3 separate regions of the Homo sapiens genome follow, and regions 1 and 2 are each linked to region 3. The links come from fine-mapping of genetic effects on gene expression. A gene starts in region 3. Each other region holds a variant in brackets. All regions are shown on one strand. Distances are from middle to middle. Region 1 has its middle 28 kb from the start of LMO4. Region 2 overlaps LOC107985408 (a long non-coding RNA gene). Region 3 holds the start of LMO4 (LIM domain only 4).

Evidence for each region.
Region 1: its variant is fine-mapped to the expression of LMO4 in monocytes (TOPMed, PIP above 0.99).
Region 2: its variant is fine-mapped to the expression of LMO4 in whole blood (TOPMed, PIP above 0.99).

What each region holds. Positions count from the first base shown.
Region 1 is chr1:87,297,226-87,305,409 of GRCh38, forward strand. No RefSeq gene overlaps it. Among named protein-coding and RNA genes, the nearest start is that of LMO4, 28 kb to the right of the region's middle. The variant C/T (reference allele first, on the strand shown) is at 4,479.
Region 2 is chr1:87,507,414-87,515,597 of GRCh38, forward strand. All of the region lies in intron 2 of LOC107985408 (a long non-coding RNA gene), which reads left to right. Among named protein-coding and RNA genes, the nearest start is that of LINC01364, 140 kb to the left of the region's middle. The variant A/G (reference allele first, on the strand shown) is at 4,552.
Region 3 is chr1:87,324,976-87,333,159 of GRCh38, forward strand. LMO4 (LIM domain only 4) reads left to right here and starts at 3,905. Exons shown (of 5, transcript NM_006769.4): 1 at 3,905-4,269; 2 at 7,038-7,276. The coding sequence starts at 7,041. RefSeq lists silencers at 1,088-1,137, 3,107-3,276, 3,527-3,956, 4,880-4,969, 6,336-6,695 and enhancers at 3,815-4,392, 4,393-4,968, 4,534-6,079, 5,749-6,387, 6,388-7,026 and 1 more.

The DNA.
Region 1 (8,184 bases), 28 kb before region 3:
CTGCTAAAAAGACATACCCGAGAATGGGTAATTTATAAAGGAAAGAGTTTTAATGGACTCATAGTTCCACATGACTGGGGAGGCCTCACAATCTTGGTGGAAGATGAAGGAAGAGCAAAGGGATGTCTTACATGGCAGCAGGCAAGACAGAGCATGTGCAGGGGAACTCCTGTTTATAAAACCATCAGATCTTGGCTGAGACGGTGGCTGTAATCCCAGCACTTTCGGAGACTGAGGTGGGTGGATTGCTTGAGGTCAGGAGTTTGAGAACAGCCTGGCCAACATGGCAAAACCCTGCCTCTACTAAAAACACAAAAATTATCTGGGCATGGTGGTGGATGCCTGTAGTCCCAGCTACTTGGGAGTCTGAGGCACAAGAATCACTAGAACTCAGGAAGTGGAGGTTGCAGTGAGCCAAGATCATGCCACTGCACTCCACTCTGGGCGACAGAGTGAGACTCTATCTCAAAAAAATAAAATAAAATAAAATAATCAGATCTTGTAAGACTTATTCACTATCATGAGAACAGCATGGGAAAGACCTGCCCCCATGATTCAATTACCTCCCACTGGGTCCATCCCATGACATGTGGGAGTTATGGGAGCTATAATTCAAGATGAGATTTGGATGGGGACACAGCCAAACCATATCACAAGGCTTCTGCATTTTTTATTTTGAAAGCCCAGTTCAGGTCCCTTCCTCTGCAAATTCCTTCTGTGGACAGTATAATCAGCCAACCTCTGAGCCCCCACAGTCCTCTGTGTATATCTCTATTTAGCACTAATCACCGCTTGCTTTGTATCATGGTTACTTCTGTGTGTGTCTGTCTCTCCCACTAGACTCTAAGGTTTTTAGGGTCAGAGACCATGTCTTATTCATGTCCACATCTCCAGATGCAAGACCAGGACCTTACGCATTCAAGCTCTTAAAAATTTTTTGGTGAATTGAATTGAAAAACAGTGTGTTGGAATTGTGGGCTCCATTAATTATGTGCTACACGCTCCAAGTAGATCTCTCAGGAAGTCTGGGGGTCACTCCCACTCTGGCATTTAGAAACAGAGCCAGGCCACCTCCTATGTCATCTGTTCCTATTCTCTATTTCCTACTGCTCAAGCCACCAACAGCCTTCCTGACTGAAGCTTTCTTTTCTCGGTGTGTTTCAATTGCTGCAACGTGACCTGAGAAGTCCCTGGGGTGGGTCATGTGAGTTTCGTGAGTGATTGGAGTAGCCTTCTGCTATGATCTGAGTGTTTGGGTCTCCCCAAAATTCATACATTGAAACATAATTCTCAATGTGATGGTATTAGGAGTTGGGGCTTTGGGGGATGATTGGGTCATGAGGACAGAGCCTTGTGAATGGGATCAGTGCCCTTATAAAAGAGGCTCTAGAGAACTCCCCTGATGCTTCTACCACACGAGGACACATCTAGAGCCAGGCCCTCACCAGACACTGAATCTGTAGGTGCATTGATCTTGGACTTCCCAGTCTCCAGAACAGTGAGAAATAAATTCCTGTTGTTTATAAGACACTAATGTATGGTATTTTGTTACAGCAACTCAATGAGACTAAGACACCCTCTGTCATTGATTGGATTGGTGGCAGATGTAGCAGACTTGCTCCTCTCCCAAGTCTCCTTCAAATGACCTTTCCTGAGGCCAAAAATTCTGACCTGCAATTTTGAATTAAAAGCATTGTTTTCCAAAGTGTTCTAAACAAATGGGGGCATGGGATACGCTATCAAAGGCTCTATACCTGATGCTTACACCCGTGGCATAACTTGTTGGCAGCTTCATAGCAGAGAACAAGGCCCAGAAGGATGGGGACCTGGAGCTAGCATCCTCTGACCTGGGGTCTAGGTGTTGGGGGTGAGTGAAGAGAGGATTGTGTCAGCAAAGATGGCCGGGACATGGATAAGGCGGATGAAGCTGAGACTCCTAGGCAGGGCATAGGGAATGGAAGACAGAGAAGATGGGTGGTGAGGAAGAACGTCCCTGGGAGCCCTCTGCTTCCTTATTGTGCCGAGAGTAAACTTGGCTGAGGCCCCTCCTGGATTTCCAGCTGGTGGCTGAAGGTCACCCTGCAAAAGAAGGCACTTAATTCCCAAGTTGCTCCATTAAGGAGCAAAGAGGGAGAGAGGCAGTATACTCTGGCCATTAAAAGCTCTGACTCTGGGGCCTCACAGACTCAGGTTTTCATTCTGGATCTGCTAGGAACTAGCTCGGTGACTTAGGACAGTTACTTAACTCCTCTGTTCCTCACTTTCCTCATCTATAAAATGGGGACATACATAATGCCTCAGGAGGTTCCAAGGAGGATTAAACTTGGCTGAGATCTTCCATGGTAAGCACTCAATAAAAGGCAGCTAGTCTTACTAAAGGAGGCAGCTCCTGCTACTCTCACCATCTGTGCCTGTGTTCCACTGCAGACAGGACCAGACCAGCCAGAGAGGCAGTGATGGCAGCAGGCAAGCTAAAACTCGGGCCTACAGAATTCTCCAATGTTAGTCCCAGAAGGATTGGATTCAAAGTGTTATCTGATTCAGGCTTCCCTTTCAAGAGCAGAAAATAGGCCTAAAAAGGTCATATAGCTAACAGGAGGAAATAGGCCTAGGCAGATCATGTGGCTTGACATAGCCATATAGAGATGGCCACATAGCTGAGGAAGTCACAGGCAAGGCACTGGGAGCAGCAGGCTTTGTGGGCCATTTCCAAACCCATAGTAATCATCATCCTCAGAATAAAAGCCTCAAAATTCTATGCCCCATAGAAGGAGGTGGCTTTCAGATGGCAGATTGCTTGCAGGTTGGCTCTTTTAGGTGAGGATAATTCCTAGGCACTTACTCAGTGAACCTGGTCCATTTTTCTTCTTTCCAATCCTCTTCTCCTTATGGGGATGTTTTCATTGTTTTCTTTTCAGGCTGGGCTTAGCCCTGGCCTCTCCAGGCTTGTGGGTTTTCCCTTCCCCCGTCCTCCTCTGCCCTCCCTGGTTTCTACCAGGAATAGGCAGTGATTGAAATTATTGATTCAATCAGTTCATCCTCCTGCCGAGATGCATCTTGGCTGGATCACTAATTCCGGGGCCAAGCCTTAGCACAGTCCACTGGCTTCCCCTGCTCAGCGCCAGGGGCAATTGGAGCTGCAGAACCTCCTGGGGTATCATCAATGAAGCCTGGAGGATTTGACTGGTAATGGGCTCCTGGTTCTGAATCTGGCGCTGCAACTGAATCCGGGGAAACAGAGACACGTCCAGCTTCTCTGAAAGCCCACCAGCTTGGTCCATTGCAAACGAGGCTGACTTTCAAGTTCCTAGTTACAGTTCCCACTCACTGTTACAAGAAATCTCTCTGAGGATATTCTTTCCTATAGCATGGAATAATTTGGAATCACAAGAATGAAGACATTGCTGTTTCTCAAGTGATAATAAAAGCATCATCGTGGGGGCAATTTTGGCGGCCAAGTGACTGGACTTACTATAAATGCCTTCCTATTTTACTAGGTCTCTTCAGTTTCCTTGCCCGCCCTCATTTATTTTACAGGGATTCTGTGTAGCTGAAGTAATGTGCATGAATATTGCGTAACATTTTGTGGACGGATACAATATTGTAGAAATAATTTAATTGACGACCTGTAATGAAAAGAGCGCTGGGTAAGTAGCCTGGGTTGCAGTTTCTCTCTATATTTTTACATCACCAGGGATAGTGCTGTTGACATGAATAGGCCAGTATTGATTTCATTTAAAATTTTCAACATCTGAATGATGTGAGCAGTGATCTGTGGGAAGATACTGTGGAGTTGTCGGCATAGCCCCTGCTAACAAAATACCATTTAAAAAGGATTTTTCTATTAGCATTCACAAAGAGAAGAGAGAATAAAAAGGGTTATGAGAATGTTAAAATTTTCACTGACCAAAGAAATATGAAGTCACCATCTTCATTTTACTCTTAATTAATTCAGTTATTGGACCTTATATAAGCCTCTGTTAAATTCCTAAAAGAAAGCAGGCTGGGGCCTTGAGGTGGTTATATAGAATACTTTGTTTTCTAAAGGGAGTGACTTCAATCACCCCATGAGAAAGTCCCTGAAGGCAATCAGACTCCCCCAAGAAATGGATTTCAAATGCGGCAGCAACTCCTTAATGCTGCCCTGCTAATGAGTTCCAATTCAGTGGTTATGAGTTACCATCATTGAACAACAGTAGCACGAATTAGATTTTCAAACTTTCAGAGATGCAGTTTCTCAGGACCCCTGAGTCTACCAGTCAGATCATAGAAGGTTGAGAGGAGATAGATGCTGGGCAGGTGGCCCAAGGAGTGATTTTTAAAAGGCAATCCTGTGGTAAACTGGGGACACTGATTGGGTTCCATTTCTGGGTAGTGGGGGTTTGAGGTTCTCAGTTTGCCCAAGAGATAGGTTTGTTGTGAAATTATGGACCAAGGCAGAGGTTGCAGTGACCTGAGATTGCGCCACAGCACTCCAG[C/T]CTGGCGACAGAGCAAGACTCCATCTCAAAAAAAAAAAAAAGTATGGACCAAGTGGAAGTCGGCAGCTCCTGTCTTCATCCTTTTGTTGGCCTGGAGGTCAAGGAGAGGTAGAGGGACAATGCTGGCTGTGAAGTGCCTGGAGTGGCAAAAAGCCACCTCTTGAGCTTCTTCAGCCTTCCTGTCTTTCTAATGATGAGCTTCAGCTCAGGTATGGCAAAGACATTTGAAGAGAAAACTCAGGGAAGGAGCTTTCCAGAATCACTGGTAATGAGTCTGATAGAAGAGCTATCTGAATGCAGTGCTGCCCCGGCTGTGGATTCTTCCAGAAAGCTGGCCTCAGTTGGGCTGCTTTGGGCTATAGGACTCCGCTGCCTGCCTTGCCAAGCAGAGTGGGTATCTTCAACCTTGGATGAGGAGGCCCATGAAGGAGACCTGGACCAGTGTACACCGGGAGATGAAAGGGGCCTTGCTGGATGTTGTCCTGAGGGGAATGTACTAACCCTGGCTTCAGTTGTGGCAGCAACACAGAGGGAAGGGGCATGGGAGGGATAAAGATGAAAAGGAAGGCGAAGCATGAATACTAGTCTTCACCCGAAGAACAACTGGAAATCATGAAAATGTCTTAAACCAACAGAGACACGTCATTCTAAATGTGTCTGATAAAAGCAGTGCGAATATTTTTATTGACATTCTAAGAACATAACCTAGATTGATATACATAAATAATATATAGAAAAACTATGTATCATTTTTGTAGAACTCAATAAAGCTATTTTCATTTTGAATAGAAAAAAACAATTTGAAAACTTAAAAAAAAAACCACCACATTGGTTAGCCAGGCGCAGTGGCTCACACGTGTAATTCCAGCACTTTGGGATGCTGAGGTGGGTGGATTACCTGACGTCAGGAGTTCAAGACCACTTTGACCAACATGGTGAAACCCCATCTCTACTAAAATACAAAAATTAGCTGGACATGGTGGCAGGCACCTGTAATCTCAGCTACTTGGGAGGCTGAGGCAGGAGAATCGCTGGAACCCAGGAGGTGGAGGTTGCAGTGAGCTGAGATTGCGCCATTGCACTCCAGCCTGGGCAACAACTCCAAACTCCATCTCAACACTCCATCTCAAAAGAAACAAACAAACAAACAAAAAAAACAAGCAAACAAAAAAAACAAGCAAACAAAAAATGGCATTGGCTTCACATCACTGAAAAAGACTTCCAGAGAGGCTGCTCTAATCCTGACAGGTGCTGGCCAGGCATGTGCCTGGGGTACTTCTGTCAGACTGTTGTCTGTCCTAGTTTTGATTGTCCTCCCATCTGAGTCACAGAATGGGCAACAAAGCAAAAACTCCACCATAAATGCCTCCTCCGGAAGTTTTCCTCCAAAATTGCACGGCAAGCTCACACTCTGGAATGAAGCCACCCCATCGAATCGTGGCTAACCACCTGTGCTCAAGAGTCTCCTCCCACAACCTGCCACTGAGCCTGATGGTCCCACAGTCAGAGCCACACTGGCTCTGGAAGGTCCCCTGAGAGAGCCAGTAGGTCACGATTTAATGCTGGGGTAACCGTGGGATGATATTGTATGATATTATGTTCAGGGACCCAGGAATCCTGAAATCCTTTCTGATGAGGCACTGTCACTCTGAGGGAGGGAAAATGAGGGGGAACAAGAAATGAATGGACATTATACTTAATTATTAGCCAGAGTTTTGGCCTTCAATCCCAATGCAGAGAAATCTGGAAGGCTGGGCTGGACCGCATGGAAGGTGGACTCCCTCTGATGTGTCTCTCTCTCTCTGGGTAGCCTTAGATGGCAGCAGGCTTGAATGTTTGCTCTCTTTTCTTTCTCCGCACCCACGCACCAGTTTTGGAGTTTACCGTTAGGATGCTAGAAAAGGCTGATCCACTGTACAGCAGACAAGAACAAGGAACCAGAGAGACAGAGCAACTTTGCTCGCAGTGCCTAGCAGGGATCTGGCTCACCTTTTCCTGTGGGAAGCCCAGTGGGAAGTAGGGAGGGCATTTAAGGAGAGGAAAAAGTTGAGGAAAAGGGAAAGGGTAGCTGCCTCACATGGACACCACACCTTGCCACAGCAACGAAGAGAGCAAGATTTTACCAAAATGACTGAATTTTTAGCTGCTTGAAACCAGAAGAATGAGATCCTGTATCCTATATCTGACTAACCAACCTGATACCCCTGTCTTTGAATCCACATGTTGTCCCATAGTCCAGTTTCCACATTAGGCACCAACAGTTTATCAATGTGTCCTAAGGGTGGGACACTATAGTTAAGGTGATTTGGGGTGTTCCATGGACACAGTTATTAAAATATATTGCTTTGTTTAATAAGAAAGTTATTCCATTTAAAGCACTTTCAATCCTTCATATTAATTCTAGGAGACTATCTCAGTTGGTGCTATGTATCTTTAACACTTTTAAAATAATTTAGTTCTTTTTCTTAACAGAGGATAGGCCTCATCCTCAGAGCTCTCAAGCAGCTGCAATATGTAGCAATAATTTAAAAACATGTTTTTATTTTTATTTTTAAATAAATTTCATTAATTTAAGTGAAACAGGTAAGATAATTGTCCTCCTAGTTAATAATAATAGCCAAAAGCTATGTATACTTACCAGGGACCAGGAACTATGTGTTTAATGTATATTAACCCCTTTAGTCCCCAACACAACCCTATAAGATAGGTCTATTATTACTCCTATTTTACAGATGCAGAAGCTGTCAGTAATTTTTAACATCTCCGTTTTTGAAAAATATTTTTTAAAAGTTTCCATATTATAAATATGATGCATATTTTATTAGAGAAAAGCACTAAATATAGTTAATGAAAAAGAAGGATCATCATTAACACCTTGGTCTATAAGCTTTCTAAGCTTTTTTATATATACAGTTTGAATATCCCTTATCTGAAACGCTTGGAACAAAAAGTGTTTCAGATTTCCAATTTTTTTGGATTTTGGAATATTTTCATTATATATACCTATTAGTTCAGCATCCCAAATTTGAAAATCCAAAGTCCAAAATACTCTCATGGGCATTTCCTTTGAGCATCATGCTGGCACTCAAAAAGTTTTGGATTTTGGAGCATTTCAGATTTCGGATTTTCAAATTTAAAATGCTCAACATACACATATATACACATATGTGCAAATATTTTATTTTCAAAAATGAAAATGAGATCATATCAAATATATGGGGTTATTTTTGGTTTTGTTTGTTTTAAGGAGACAGCGTCTCATTCTGTTGCTCAGGCTGGAGTGCAGTGGCTCAATCTCAGCTCAGTGCAGCCTCAACCTCCTAAGCTCAAGCGATCCTCTTGCCTCAGGCTCTCGAGTAGCTGAGACTACAGGTGCTCATCACCACACCTGGCTAATTTTTTTAATTTTCTGTAAAGACAAGGTCTCACTCTGTTGCTCAGGCTGGTCTTAAACTCCTGGATTCAAGCGATTCTCCCGCCTCGGCCTCCCAAAGTGCTGGGATGACATGCGTCCACCACCATGCTCAGCCAAACATAGGATTTTGAAACTTCCTATTTCACTTAAATCTACTCTACTTTCCCTTACCTTAGTCCCTGTCTCTTTCTAAGAGGCAAGCTTGCTTGTTTCTGATTGGGAAACACTGAGGTTTCAATGGCAGACTCTAGCTTCCCTTTTTCTGAAGATTGTAAATGAAGGGTCTTATGA
Region 2 (8,184 bases), 180 kb after region 3:
ATTTGTGTCTACATATGGGGATTTTTCATCAAATTGCATAAAGTATGTTAAATAATCAACTCCAAAATCCAATTCATTAATTATCTTGCTTAAAATATACTTCAAATATATCACATTTGACATCTTATGTCATTGATAGTAGAAGGAAATGATAACACTTAAAATCAATAAGTGTTTTTAATTTATTTTACTTATTATGGTTGTCATAATATTTTGACATGGAGGGCTGACATGTCAACCACACTGTTATCAGGAGGTAAGGCAATGGCATTAAACTGTCTCACCATCCGTGCTACTGTTTCAGCATAAAGTGGGCCCAGGGGGAAAATATAGCTAAAATCTCCAAGGAAGTATCTGCTTATGAAGTCAATACAGGTCATCACTGAATAAAGCAGCCTGAGCTCAAAACAAAAGCTGAGGGAAAGAAGTCTACACTCTAATCTGTTATCTTTTCTCCCAAAGGATTTAACAATAATAAGAGCACTAAAAATGTGTGAGTGCTGTGTGCCAGACTTGTGCAAAGTGTTCCACATATTTTATCTCGTCTCCTTTAAGAGGTGAGGTACTTTTACATAGCAAAACCCAGGTTTGAATGAGAGTCTGTGTGATTCCATGCCTGGCTCTGTTCTCGGATACCAAAGCCATCACTATTCTGTATGGTTTGGAACGAAAATGGATTCTGACTTCTGGATCCCACTTTCCGCCCAGAATCGTGCCTTAGTCCTAAGTCCTGGTCACCTCCTACTGCTGGATGGTATTGGAGTAGGACTTGCATGTGGACAGTGGGTTGTTACAACATGCTTTTGTACGCCTGGAGAGGGTAGGCTTGAAGGCAACTAATGCTCTTCTCTTTGTCTCTAAGCATTAGAGATTAAAGGCAGATTCAAAAGAAATTGTAAGAAAGGAGGACTTGAGAGCATGTGTTTTTCTGCTATTTAGGACACAGGCAAAGCCAAATTTTTTTTTAAAGGCTAAATGTAGGTTTGACCCTGCTTGAAGTAAGCACCAAAGCAATGAGTAATAGATGAGACTTGGAATCTGATAGCAGCAGCATTCTCTATGCCCAGCTAATTAAAGGCCAGTAAAGAGCTCCTGGTGGGCAGGGCTGATGTCTTCTATACTGTAGTCCCTGTTTTGTACAGAACGGGTGCCCAACCAGGATTTGTTGAATGTAGTTTTTCATCCATAGCCAAGAATCAGCAGCTTGTTCTTATCTTAACTCCTCTTTTCTTGGCTATTGGTTTGCTTATAAAATGTTTTTGCTTTTCCTGAAGACTTAAGAATTAGCCTTGAGGACAAAAAGGTAGTCATTTTTTAACATAATATTTATGTAATGTTATTTTTATGGACAAGGCTCTGTGTTAGGCACTAGGGATAAAGCAGCAGTGGGGCCGGGTACAGTGGCTCACGCCTGTAATCCCAGCACTTTGGAAGGCCGAGGCGGGCAGATCACTTGAGGTCAGGAGTTCAAGACCAGCCTGGCCAACATGGTGAAACCCCCGTCTCTACTAAAAATACAAAAATTGCTGGACGTGGTGGTGGGCACCTGTAATCCCAGCTACTCAGAGGCTGAGGCTTAAGAATTGCTCAAACCTAGGAGGTGGAGGGTGCAGTGAACCAAGATCATGTTACTGCACTCCAGCCTGGGCGACAAGAGCGTGAAACTCCATCTCAAAAAAAAAAAAAAAAAAAAAGCAGCAATGAACAAGATGGTCAAGCATGGAAGGTAGACATCAGTCAACTTATCAGACAATTATCTGATTACCATGGTGATAAATCTTATGAAAAAGTATAGATTGTTATGGGTGTTTAGGAGAACTTGACCTAAATTAAGAGATCTGTGAAGGCCTTCTTGGAGAAATGACGTTTGAGCTGAACTATTTATTAAGGATGAACAAGAATTAATCAGGGCAAGTGGAGTAGGGAAATGGCAGGAGGGAGGGTGGTAAACAAACAATGCAAGGAGAGAGAGCGCATTGGTGAGAATGCTTCATCAGAAGGAGCTTAGTAGGGTTCTAAAATACAAATCAGATTAGTGTGGCTGAAATGCAGGGTGGAGAACCATGCAGCAAGATGAGACTTAAAAAAACAGTTAAGACTTTTTGGTTGCAAACATAAAGGAATTTATTGGCTCAATAAACAGAATGCTTCAGAGGTAGCTTGGCTCTACTCATAACTTTAACAAGAGCTCTTTATTGCTCTCTAGTTTTCTTGGCCCTATCTCCCCCACATATTGACTTGTGTCTCCTAAGGTAGCGAAGTAACTGCAGCAGCTCCAGCTTTCATACCTGCCTTCCATACCATCCAGAAGAGAAAGAAACTTGTTATGGTATTCCTAGTACGAGGCCTGAGAATCACCCTGATTGGAGCAGTGGAGGTCACATGCCCTGTCTTGAACCATGCACCGTGTTGAGGAGGCAGGAATGGCCTGCTTAGCCTGGCCTGGGCCAGATGGTCTATCTCAGGAGCTTCGGGAAGAGTCAGCTTCCCTGGAATCACAGAGATTACAAAACAGAAATCAGGGCTGCTAGGAAGTGCAGAATGGATGATGGTGGGGCCACAGTGATCACTGCAAGGTTGAAAAGGTGAAGACAGGCCTGTGCTATAGGATTTGGGACTTCTTAAAATGACAGGAAGTCATTAAAGGATTTTCAGTAGGTCAGTAATGTCTTTGGTTATTCAAAAACATCATTGTGAACTCTACCTTGATGTGTCTGTAGTTTCTTTTTTTTTTTTTTTTTTTGAAACGGAGTTTCACTCTGTCACCCAGGCTGGAGCGCAGTGGCAAGATCTTGGCTCACTGCAACCTCTGCCTCCCTGGTTCAAGTGATTCTCCTGCCTCGGCCTCCCGAGTAGCTGGCCCGCCACCACGCCTGGCTAATTTTTGTATTTTTTAGCAGAGACGGAGTTTCACCATGTTGGCCAGGCTAGTCTCGAACTCCTGACCTCAGGTGATCCACCTGCTTTGGCTTCCCAAAGTGCTGAGATTACAGGCGTGAGCCACCACGCCCGACTGATGTGTCTGTAGTTTCTAAGAAAACCATTGTCAGATAAATAAATCATTATGTTAAGAGCAAAATGCAACTCATTTTCTAGTTTTCCTAATAATAATAATAATTCTTATTAGTCTTCTAATGTTAATAACAGGCTAATAATAGTAATAAGCCCGCCACAGTGAAAAGAGATTTACAAGCATTATCTCATACAATCTTGACTATAATCCTGGGAAGTAAGCCTGATTATTATCCCCATGTTAGTGACAGGGAAGCTGAGGTATGGGGAGATCAGGTGATTTACCCAGGGTTACATAGCTAGTAAATAGCCAGACAATAGCTGTGTGAATCAACATATTGTGTTATTCCCACTAAACTCTGTGATGTCATGGGGGTGGGGAAAACTTTTTATTTACAGTTGCTCCTTGATAAATTGATTCCAGGATGCCCACGGATACCAAAATCCTCAGGATGCTCAAGTCCTTTGTATAAAATGACTTAAGATTTATGTAATACCAGCCGGGCACAGTGGCTCACTCCTGTAATCCCAGCACTTTGGGAGGCCGAGGCGGGGGGATCACGAGGTCAGGAGATCGAGACCATCCTGGCTAACACAGTGAAACCCCGTCTTCACTAAAAATAAAAAAAATTAGCCCGGCATGATGGCTAGCGCCTGTAGTCTCAGGTACTAGGGAGGCTGAGGCAGGAGAATGGCGTGAACCCGGGAGGCGGAGCTTGCAGTGAGCGGAGATCGCGCCACTGCACTCCAGCCTGGGCTACAGAGCGAGACTCCGTCTCAAAAAAAAAAAAAAATTTGTGTACTACCTATGTACCTCCTCCTGGATACTTTAAATCATCTCTACATTACTTGTAATACCTAATACAGTGGAAATGCTATGTAAATAGTTGCTATATTGTATTTTTTATTTGTATTATTTTTATTGTTGTAATGCTAGTTTTTATTATTTCCCAAATATTTTTTATCTGAGGTTGGGTGAATCCCCTATGTGGAACTCATAGGGATAGGGAGGGTCGACTGTGTTTGACAAACAATTATTGGACAAAGCCTTGTGCTAGGAATCAAAAGTATCAACTGGGCAGTCAGATTGCATAGAATCTGCCAGAATTTAAAAAAAAATTTAGTAAAATATACATACCGTAACATTTGCCATTTTAACAATTTTTAAGTGAGTGATTAAGTGGCATTAATTACATTTACAATGTTGTGCAATCATCACCATCATCTATTTCCAAAACTTTTGCATCACCCCAAACAAAAACTCTGTAACCATTAAGCAAAACCTCCTCCCCCTAACCCTTGGTAAACTCTAATCTACTTTTTGTCTTTATGAATTTGCCTATTCTAGATATTTTAAGTGGAATCATACAATATTTGTTCTTTTCTGTCTGGTTTATTTCACTTAGCATAATGTTTTCAAGGTTTATTCACGTTGTTGCTTGTATCAGAACTTCATTCCTCTTCATGGTTCAGTAATCTGCTAGAAATTTGAAAAAACTATTTTTGTCAGTTCAGTGATTACAAAATATTTGAAGTTGA[A/G]TAACTATAATTTTAAGCAAGGATTGCACTCTAGTTTTCTACTATCCCTATGATACCCTATTGTCTTAAAATTAGTAGCCTGCTTGCACTTATTAACACTGTCTAGCCCAATTCAGAAGGCATCTGTGGTTGCAACAATCATCCCTGTGATTTGGACTGACAAGCTCTTCGAGATTAATTACACTGAGTCCTCTCCTAAAGAAGGTAGAAACTTGTCTTTGTACTTCTTTTTGCCATCACCTATTAGCACTGTGCTTTCTATAATAGATGCTTACTAAATATTTGTGAATACAAATTTAAATTCAGTTTATCAAATCTGTATCAAGTATTTATAACGTTCTAGGCACTGTGCTAATGGTTAGGGTTACAATAAGGAGGTAGTTCCTGTCCTCTTGGACACTATGCTACAGGTGGACAATAATGATGATGAGAGCCAGCCATCTTAAAAATAGCAGTGTCTTCAATTTTTATAGGTTTTTGTTTCTAAACATATATTAGCCCATTTATTGCTATGATGTTTGGCATACATTTACTTTTGAAAACTAGTGGCTATTTTTTAGTTTATTCCAAATGGAACAAGTTGGAAGAGATTATTGGTTAACCACAAGATTTTGAGGTTTGATTTCACGGGGTAGTAAATGATGAATTAATTCTTTAAGAAAAAGGTTTCTTTAAGTCTAAAAATAGTTCTTATAAGGTCATTGTTTCTCAACTAAGTTGGAAGATGTGCCAATTTATGCTATGCTCTAAGAATCTTTAACTTTCCTGCCATTTCATGAACTTAACTCTTTTGATAGCTCCAGGATTTAAGTCTTAAAGGCAGCTTAAAACAAAGCCCCGAGCACATTGCCCTTGTCTTTTCATGTGTACAACTGTCTGTCCCTAGGTCAGTGAACGATAGTTGTGAAGGTTCTTAGAGAGTGAACAGAGTTTCAGAGCTTTCTTGAGTAGGTGTCCTGAGTTCACCAGACTTGCTGTCATCTGGAACTGTTCTACTTATTTGGTTGTCAACAGCATCCTAGTGGAAAAGAGGATAATGCAACCATAGCTGCCACACAGCCCTCAGGAACTTTCCATCTTGCTATGTAGCTGAAAGTGTTGGTCTCTGTCTTCATTTGTCATGAGCCTCCCAACTCTGGAGATCAGTGGAAAGGCCATAAATGGAAAGAGCCAGCATTTAGTCAGTAAGGTGGCAGAGATGAGATGGTGTCTTTCAGAATTTTCTATTAAGCAGTTAGTCCTGTGTCATTACCAAGTAAGGATTAAAGAGGCCTATGAAAAGCCACAGACTAGCATCGTTTAAAGGATCCAAATGCAAACCATAGTTACAAATGTGCTTTTTGTCAAACATTAGGAAAGAAAATGTACGACACTACTAAGAAAATGGTGCAGAAGGCAGAGAAGACTCTTGGATTGGGAGGAAATTCCAGTTCAGTCTGGTTTATAGAAACTTCAACCACAAGCTCTTTTCAAAAGGATATCAGGATTCAAGCATTACATCATCTAAATAAATTCTCATTGGATGTTCAGTCCCTGACTGGCTGGAATCGGGTTCCCTTTATTTAACCCTTTCCCAGCCAAGACATAGCCTGTCCTAACTTTGAGAATGTATCTTTCCTGTTATTTGCAGCAGCATTTAGCATTTGAGCAGAACGCATGTGAAGAAAGTTGCTTTCTATAAACCCCCCACCTCAGTTTAAGTTTTTATACTTAGTATGTCAAAAAAGTTATTTCAAATGCTTTGTTGCTATGTAATTGCAAAAGCAGCATTACTGAGAGAAATGCTTCAATAAAGCCTTTGGAAAATAGAGAACGTCAAGCCATTATATGATTACGTTTCCTACACCCCAGTCCTCTTTCTCTTATAGTTACACTCCTACCCTCTGGTTCAACATTTTTGTCAGATTATGTGTTTTACCTGGTCATTATGGATGGATATTAAAATTACAGGCTTATAACTAAGCAACCATTTGCAAAAAATGAAGTAACATACCATGGCCACCAAAGAGACATGTAAGTGTTTTGGCTAAAGGGTGACAATTTTATTTGGGTATTTCACACTTTATTGAGGAAAGAGTGTTGATATAGTTAATGATTTCAAAAGTATACCACTCCGGAATCGTCCTGCAGTCTTCCTGTCTTTTCACTGGATGCATAAATGGAATCAGAGAGACACAGACAGTAATTGTGGGTCAGACTGATAAAATGACTCATAATAGCTTTGGAGTTGTGAAACTTAGGGCTGTTATCTTGAGTTCATATCACTTTCCCTCCCTTTTAAGAGTGTTATCGGAAATATCCATTTCTCAGTTAATAAATTAAAAATCCTCTCTATTTCAATCATTTTTGGTTTTTATAACATCCCTGGAGATAAATGGAGACAACCCCAGGTATTGCAAAACCAGAACAAGAATCACAGGTTTAGAGGCATGAAGAATTGTACAGGATGGAAGAACACAGGGAGGAGAACATGGGCATTCTGAGCTCACACCTGTTTGCGGGAGGGCTGGATGCTTAGATATAACTGTGCCAGCCAGGACAGAAGGGAGGAAGGAGCTGCATCTTGGATTTGTCAAACATGTGCTTACTCTCCCTCCTGGCTTCATTACTACACAAAAGATGATAAGACTTGACACCACCAGTCAGGATTTTGTCTTCAAAGATATCAAGAGGAGAGTGGGAGAGTGAAACCCCCAGGGCTGACCTTCAGAGGAGATGAGAAACTCAAAGAGTGAGTATGAAAGGGTAGAAAAATTAGAGTGGTTGGGGAGTATTAGCAGTTTCTTTACCTTTTCTGATACAGGGCCTCACACGTCAACTGATGCAGAATTGGCAGGGGGCTCAGGATGATACCGTGTTTAATACTGTAAAATTAAGTGTGTTTGAAAGAGCAAAGTTTATATATTCTTTACCTGGCTCAACAAAATTCCCTTGTCACCTCTGAAAACCATTTTCTAGAATGCAGGCTCCCTCTAGCCCAAAGCTTAAAATTATCAGTCATATTGAAAAGAAGAATGAAAACAAGTCCTCACACTGCTGTGTATTTGATTCTGGTTTAGAAATCCATTATCTTTAAAATATACCCATGTTGTCAGTCAGGTTCCTCAGGAAGAAGTTTCTGGGAGAGCACTGGGTAGTGAGTGCCCTCGCTTTGCAGGGAAGGAAGGGAACAGGACTCAGGAGAGCGAGAAGTCAAATAGTGATGCAGTTACAAAAAGCCTAGGCATCTTGTGGCCCTGCTCCTTTGGGGACCTCTGGAGCTGGGATAGCTCTGCAGAGTTGCCCTGTATTGGGGCTAGGGGATCACATTGACTCATCATGAGATGTGGGTGGCCCTAGGGGATGGGGTATCATCCTAGGTAAGGTGGCTATCTAAGGCAACTCCTAGAGAGCGACTCAGCTGAGCACTATGTATGGTCAACCCTTTTGGTGGCCGAGGGAATGAGTCTTAGTCTCAGTAGGGTGGATATGGGCAGCACACCACAGCATCCACTACAATGAAGATAAAGGGTCTCAGCAAAATTCTGGGATTATTCAAAATTATCTAAGATTATTAAAAACTCTAAGATTTTTCAGTCTTTTCAAAAATTGCCAAAGTAAGCCCAGGGTGCCAAATTGCCAGTGTAATCTCTG
Region 3 (8,184 bases):
GCTGGGACTACAGGCACATGTCACCACACCCAGCTAAAGTTTTGTATTTTTAGTAGAGATGGAGTTTTGCCATGGTGCCCAGGATGGTCTTGAACTCAAGGGATTCACCTGCCTCGGCCTCCCAAAGTGCAGGGATTATAGGCGTGGGCCACTGGGCCTGTAAACTCCTATTCTTAAATGAAGCAGCAGGTCCGACTATACTTACTGTGCCATACACCCTGCTGCTCAGACGACAACGCCACCACAGAAAACTGGCCCAGGACCTAACCTGCCCTTCCTCTTCCTTGGGTTTTTTCTGTTGGTAACTACTGTTCCCTTTTCTCTCCACACCTTTTACACTCTGGAATTGTTGTCCTAGACTCAAGCTTTTTGTATTCACGTTGGAGGAAACTGAATATCAAGGGATCTCTGTGATGGCAGCAATAAAGTTGAGCAGATTTTTAAAAATTTTCCTTCCTAAAAAGACTTTCTTCAAAAACGGTTTTGCATTGACTTTAAAAGGACAGAATATTTTTTCCTGAGAAAGAGCTGGGGCATGTTGTCTTGGAGGTCATATCAGCATCAAATAGCCTAGACTTTCTCCAGACATTAAAGGCTGCATAGGTCTGTGTAGAACCTCTGGCTGTCCATGGGAGATTCTTAGCGAACTGTCACTTGGAGAAAAGAATGATTATGATTGAAGGACATAAACGAGAAAGGAAGCTATGAACAAATAATTTTGGGGCAAGTGGAGAAAATGACGGCTTGATCTAGGAGCAGTATGGTTCCCACATTTAATTAGGATTCAAGAAAGAAACGATTTACATTTATCTTTCTTTTCCAAAGCCCCCTAATCTTATATCTCATTGCAGATGAGTAGGATGAATGATGAATGTGTGATATCAGCAGAGGTTTCGTCAACTGTGGGGCACAATATAACATTATTTCGAGTTAGGCAATTTTACTTCATACCAGGAATATTACTTTATGCACTGTTTTTAATATTTGTTTGAAGAATATCCGAATACAGAATTTCTTTACCCATACTGAATTTGTGTGTGTTTACAAGGTTTTTGTGTTTCGCATCAGTGGAAATAAAAGATTGACGTTGCTACCCACTCAACCAGGCATTTTCAGACCACAAATCAGGATGAGAAAGGACTGCTAAACGCAAAGAATGCAGAAATAAAGATTACCCAGAGGTGGCGCTGTGGTAAAAGTACACCTGAATTTTGATTACAGTGAATGTATTTACTCCCTACCTCTCAGAAGAGAGACTGTTAGCCATTATCGCTTTTGTATTTCTATAAACACACATCAGCAAATAAAGCTCTCTGGTAATACACTCCCATCCACTCCAATCTACCAGGACATGTTTAAAGACCTCACTCCGCACAGAATTAGAGCTGAAGCACTAAAACCACCTCCTAAAATGTAGGCCCTGTAGCCTAGAGCTCTGTTATTCAAAGTTTTATCCATCTCACTCTCCTTCCTTCCACAAACACCACCGGGATCCTCTGGATAATCACTCAATGATAGCTGAACATGTGTCTGGTTAAATTTCTAACATTTCCTTCAGGAATTAAGATTTCGTTTTAGTGCATATTCTTCAGGAAAAATCCTGAAAAGTACCACAATTCGTTATACATCTATGCATTATGTGCTCTATCTAAGAAAATCATTTTTAAAAAGAAAAAATAAAGACCATTTGGCTTAATTCTCTCATTTGTGGATGAGAAAATTAAGGCCCAGAGACGGAAATTTACTTGCACATGACAAATCATAACTTAATTGTAGCCCACTAAGATCTTGTGTCATCTCCTTTTATTATAAATTATTTAAAAAGTGAAAATGAACCAGGGGATTCAAATGTATTATTTGTTTATGGTGTTCCTCTCCTCATCTGGTTTAATTGAGTTTTCTTGACTAACCTTCAAGCAGCATTACATCTTTTCTAAGTTGGTCCTCTTTAATCATGCCCATCTGTAGCTGTTTTCTGTGTAGGACATTTTAATTACTATTATAGTTTTAATGACTTTTTTTTAAAAAAAGTTTTTTATATGTGCACAAGGTGAATTCATCATAGCAGTGCAACTTTAAATACAAATCAATAAAATTAATTCATTTAATTTTAAGGTGCTAGAATTAAAAAATGAGTATTTGAATTGATATTTAAAATGCCCTCTACCTGACTGTATGGGCAATAATTATTCTTTCTTATGCAGCCTTATTAATTTTGATGGTTTGAAAGACAGAAATCCCCCAAATAGACACTAAAACCCTAAATGTTCAACATCTGCATTGTCTCGCCAGATTCTCCTTCAGGTTCCTTTCCTCAATCTAGCAGTACTGTGTGTAACACAATATGAAAACTTGCCCCACAAGGCTGGTTTTACTTAATGATACTTAGCAGAAGGGCTTTGCACTTTCATGATAATTTCCACCAGAAAAATCTCTCTGGAACTTACTAACAATAATCAGGCCTAATATTAGCCTCAGTCTGGAGATTTATTTAACCTATTTGGCAGAGTAGATAAAGTCGAATGCCTAGGTATTCAAGCATCTAGGCTGTGCTTCGGCCTTGGAAAAAGACTCTCAGGCTAGCACCCTAAAAGCATTCCTCAAAACTTGATTTATACTAGAAGTGACATTTCTTACTCTCTAGAGGCTGTGAGATTGCAAATCTTGCAATTACTTCCATTGCTTTTGGGGGCTGTGAGAATTTCCGCCTCTCATCCTCCACAGTGAGGAGGGTAGTCGGGAAAGGCTTTCTCCCTTAAGTTTTCGTCAACTTTGAAAATAAGGACTGTGCTCCCTACATCACCAGCAATTGACAAGGATCCAGGAAATGCCTGCTAGGCACTTTCAAACTCGGAAAAATGGGAGTATGAGGGAGGCTAAGTAGGCAGTATTTAGCTAGCAACTATTATTTCCTTTATGTTTCTACCTTGTTAACTAAGCTTCCACTACGGTTCATAAATCTCCAATATCGTGAATTAAAGAAACAACAACAAAAATCCTCTTCTGTGTGCTTGTGCGTGAGGGGATAGAAGTCCACTGCCCTAAGATGCAGGACTTATCTTCCCAAACAGGAAGAGACCCATTTCTGAGAAAGATGGTAAGTTTCCTAAGGGTCTCCTCTCAGATAGAGGGGATGGCAGTCCCCGAGGGGCGAGCGGGCGCGGGTCCTCAGGGTCCCCGTGCGCTGAGAAGGCAGGTGAGGCCCCGCCCTGCGTCTCGACTCCGGATCCCGGGTCGCGAAGGGCAGCCCAAGCGGGTCCCCGGCCCCAGGCGCCCGGGTCACTTCACCCCACCTGATTCGGGCCCTTCCCTTCTCCTCTGTCGGCCAGCTCTGCCGCCTCGCTCTCTCTCCCGCCCCCCGAGTCTCGTTTCAGTCATCCCTTTGTCCTTCCCCGGATTGGCAGGTTTTATTATTCCGCCTGAACAATCCGGCCGCCCAGTGGCTGAGGGTCGCTGACGTCGGAGGCAGAGCCGGGGAGTAGTTGGGATTTTGCTCTGTCAGTAACACATGTGTAAGAGCCGCGGAGGGAGCGAGCGAGCCGGCTAGAGGCCAGCGCCGCCGCCGCCGCCGCCTCCGAGCCGGGCAGCAACAGCCCCGGCAGCGGCGCAGGCTCCAGCGCGCCGGGCCCGGCCGGCCGCAGCCCCCGACGCCTGGGTGCGCCTGCCTGCCGGCCTCCGCACCGTCCGCCGCCGCTCCCGGGGCTGTTGTGTCTGCGACTGCTCCCGGCCGGAGGTGCAGGGAGCTCAGCCGAGCCGCCGCTGCCATCCCGGAGCGAGCAAGCGAGCGAGCGCGCGGGAGGGAGGAAGGCGGCGGCGGAGGAGGAGGAGGAGCGGGAGGAGCGCGGGCGGGGGCGGGGGCCCCCGGGCGGGGGAATATACAAAGTGAAGCCACATTGCCAAACTTGCAGCAGCGATTGCAGCAGTTGCTGCCGCTGCGCCGCGCCTGAAGCCGCGCCGCGCGGGCCGAGGGCTCCTGCAGCTGCTCGCGCGCAGTCGGAGGCGGAGAAGGACGAAGACTGAGACTGACACTTCTGCTCCCGGCCGCCCGGCACTTACGCGGGGGCCCCCCAACCCGCCCCAGAGCAACGCGATTTAAAAAAAAAAAAAAAGCCGCCCTTAGCCCCCTCCTCCCCTTTCCTGCTTCTGCGAGAACTCCCTCCCTCCCTCCAGCTCCGCCAGCCCAGGCGCCCCTTCCCTGGAAGCCGAGCGGCTTCGCTCGCATTTCACCGCCGCCGCCTCTCGCAATATTGCAATATAGGGGAAAAGCAGGTAAGGGGGCGGGTGGAGAGCCGCGGGCCGGGAGGTGGGAGAGGGAGGGAGGGGGTCGATTCGGGCCAGGGCTGTTTTCTTTGGCTTCCTTCCCCTGACCGTCCCAAATTGCAAGTAAACAATACGTCGGCTTAGATAAAGCGCGAGTCTGAAACTACCGAGGCCGGCCTGCGAGCTAGCGCGGAGGGCAGCCCCGGGCCGCCAGCTTTGTAGCGGTTCCTGCTTACAAAAGGGCTCTTCTTGGAAACGGGGCTGGTGGGGACCGTAGAGGGGGTGGGGATATTTCTAGTTCATAAGGGAAAGGCAAGGGGTGCTTAGATGAGGATTTTAAGTATGAGAAGTAGTGTGTTTGGGGGGGTGGGGGTGGGGATAGTCACGATACCCCCCCTCCCTTCTAGTAAACACTATTTTTGAAACAGTGGCAGGAAGGATCTAAGTGAGCAGGATTCGGTATTGCTGGTTCTTTTAAAAAAATTCTTCTTGGCTTATAAGTCTTTTGTTCCAATCCAGGAGAAATACGGTGAATCACCTAATTAAAATCAAGACATGAATTAAGCATCCATTTTTGTACTACAAATTGCCAGCGTTACGTTTGTCCCTCCCTTGGTCTCCATTAAAAAACACCAGAGACGTTGTTAAAGGGGGGCAGATTTTGCCTCTAGCTGCCAGTTCTGCTTTCTATTTCACTGACTATCCCAGGACCTAAATTGCTTGGCTATGTAATTACTAGAGTATAAGCCTATTTAACTTAAAAGCTTTCTTTTTTTTTTTTTTTTTTCCAACTCTAAATGAAACTTGATGAGGGCCCGTCCTTAGTTATCAGGGGAGTCAGTTTCTGGTCAGTCTTCTTGATTCATCTCTTTTAGATTTAATCAGCATTAAGGTATTGCTTGTCCTTAAGAGCTTTAGCTAATGGGGTTACTGGATGCTTTTCTCAGTGTAATGTTTCCTTTTCAAAAAAAAAATACATATATATTTACCTCTCACTAAAGATGGGGGCGGGGAAGAGCTTGGAATCTCCTCCCTCACTCTCCTTTTAAAAAGGAATTCGGAGCGATTAAAACGTTGGGGGAAACAGTTTAAAGATCTAGGGCAGGAAATGCAGATTCATTTGGGTTAGGGCTGAAATTGTAACAAAAAGCAATTCCTCGAGTAAATGCATCAGATAAATCAATTTACATAAAGGTATGATGCATTCGGATAAATGCAATGCTAATGGGTTTTAGAGTGGTCCTGTTTCCAAAGTCTCAGGGTTTTGTTACAGCTTAATTGGTGCAGTTCTTATTCTGGTTTATTGTGCGGTCACTGGACACACGTTCCGGGACTCTTTCGGAGGAAATGTGTTTAAAATCGGCCTATTTAAGGAACCCGAGTCCTTGTTTCGTTCCTTCCTCGTTTTTTTTGCAGCAGCCAAGTTGGGCCGGGTACAGGCAAAGTTCGCCTTCTTCTGAGGTATCAGCTGAATGTCTTGAGCAGATAGCCGGGAGCCTCAGGGGGAGCCCACACTCTCAGCTTACAGAGGACAAAGACAATACAGGCTGCTTAATTGGCAGTAAATAACTTGATCTTTTTACAGAATAAGTGACTAGAGGAACACTAGGACTTTATTGGACTCGGGATTGAAGGCAACAAATTAATCGGTTTAGGCTAAGCTTTATAAATTGATTCCTATATTATATCCCAGTTGCATCTCTTGTGGCATTCATTAGAGTGGGGAATTCTTTTTTAAAGCAGTTTTTGGTGACAGCAGGACGGGCTCGAATTTAACTTGTGCATCCCTTAATGGTGCCTTCTCGCACATTATCTGTAACGCCGCCCGCCCCCCCCCCCCCCCCGCCCTTTGGAGGAACAAAGCTTTAGCATTTAAATTGCTGATCAAGGGCAGATTAGTGAGACCAAAGTGGAGAGTGTTTGTATAGGAAGTTAACAGGCATCCTAAAGTTCAATGATCTATTATTCTTGCCTGTGTCCTGAAAACCCAGAGAAAACACTCATTGATCTTCAAAATGAAATGAGATTTGGAACAATAATGGGAGATGGCGGTCACCACAATGGCATGTGAAAGGTGCTGCTTAAAATACGAAAAACCAGTTTCGCAACTTTACACACTGCACCCACCCCTCCCGTCACCTTGCCTTCCCTCCCATCACCACGCTCTCCGTCTCCCGTCTGCCGGTCCCTCCCTCGTTCCCTTTCGGAAAACCGAACTATTTCCAACTTGTGAACTGCAGCTGCACTTCCCGGGGCAGAACCCGGGAGGGAACGAGGCTCCGGCGGGGCCGCCGCCTCCCCACTCCTCTCGGCTCTGTCCCGGGGCCCGGCGGGGGCTGGGGAGGGGCCGGGCGCGGCGGTGGGTGGGTTTGACCCTCATTTGCTGGAGGCGGGCGGCGGAGGAGGGGAGGAGGGGGCAGTGGGCGGAGGCGGGGGCTGGGAGGAGGTGCCGCGAGGGGTGGAGCGCGCAGCGGAGCCTGCTCTCGGAGTTTTGACAGTACCGGAGCTGAAATTGTCAGCGGCGGCAAGCGCAGGAAAGTTGAGAGGAGCTCGTGGCCCCAGAACAAAGCTTGAGAAAAGTAAACAGGCGGCTGCTGCCGGCGAGCCTCCCTTCTTCCCTCTCCCCCTCAGCCTCCTTCCCGCCCTTGCCCTGCTGTTTCCTTCCAGCAGCTCCGCGGGGAGGAGGGGAATGGGCTTGCTCTCTCTCCGGCGATTACTAACTTTTGCATCGCCCCTGTTTTGTCTTTCTCTCCCTGTCCCCTTCCCGCCCTCTGCAGACCATGGTGAATCCGGGCAGCAGCTCGCAGCCGCCCCCGGTGACGGCCGGCTCCCTCTCCTGGAAGCGGTGCGCAGGCTGCGGGGGCAAGATTGCGGACCGCTTTCTGCTCTATGCCATGGACAGCTATTGGCACAGCCGGTGCCTCAAGTGCTCCTGCTGCCAGGCGCAGCTGGGCGACATCGGCACGTCCTGTTACACCAAAAGTGGCATGATCCTTTGCAGAAATGACTACATTAGGTAAGACTTTGCTGTCTTTCCTGGAGATGGGGGGAAGAGCAATGGCAAGGCCAAAGGTTAACAGGGTTGTGAGGAAAGGAGTAGGCGTCTACGGGGAGTATGCAGCCTTCACCTCAAAAATCTTCTAGTTGGCGGAATTTAAGGGGTTCAGGAAGCATGTGTTAGTCTTCCAATATCTGATGGCAAATTCATGGCAAATGCCATACTAAGTAAAGACCATCTGGTGGGACTGGGTCATTAGATGTGCAAAGGTTGAGCACCCTCTGGTCCTAGAGTTTAAGTAAGTGGTCAGCCTCTACTGGACTTCAGGCTAAAAGCAAACATCCCAAGCGGGAGTTAAGCTGCGTTCTTAAAACAAGGTAGGAACTCACAGAGGAACCCAGAAACAAAGGTTGACTTAAAAATACAAGTGTAGTTAGTGAGAAATGATTTGTCTATGGCGATGGCTTATTAACGATATTTACATAAGCATCTTGAAACTTTTTTGAGCGGAAGGCTGTGATTCGTTCTTTGTGCTCCTTGAGAAAAATGCTAATTATCCATCAGTTTAAAGACTTGTAATTCTTCTTATAGAGAAAAAAAAAGTCCCAAGAAATAAAACCTGGTGGTAATGTTTCTCTTCATACTGTTACTCGGAGGCTTGCAATAATTCAGTTAGTGTGTGGTTTGCGATGTAGAATTTGCAGTTTTTTTCAATTGAAGCATGTTCAGGTTTTGGGTTTTTTGTTGTCGTTTGTATCACTGCCCTTGATCCCCAAAAGAGATTTAGAAAAAGGCTATAGAATTATACTAATCTTGCATTTTAAAGCAATGTATAGGAACATTCATATGTCCATGTAAGCAGTCTTTTCCAACAAGTTGCAGTGCAATTAATGGAAAGAATTCAGGAGGTCAGGTGCCTATAGGAT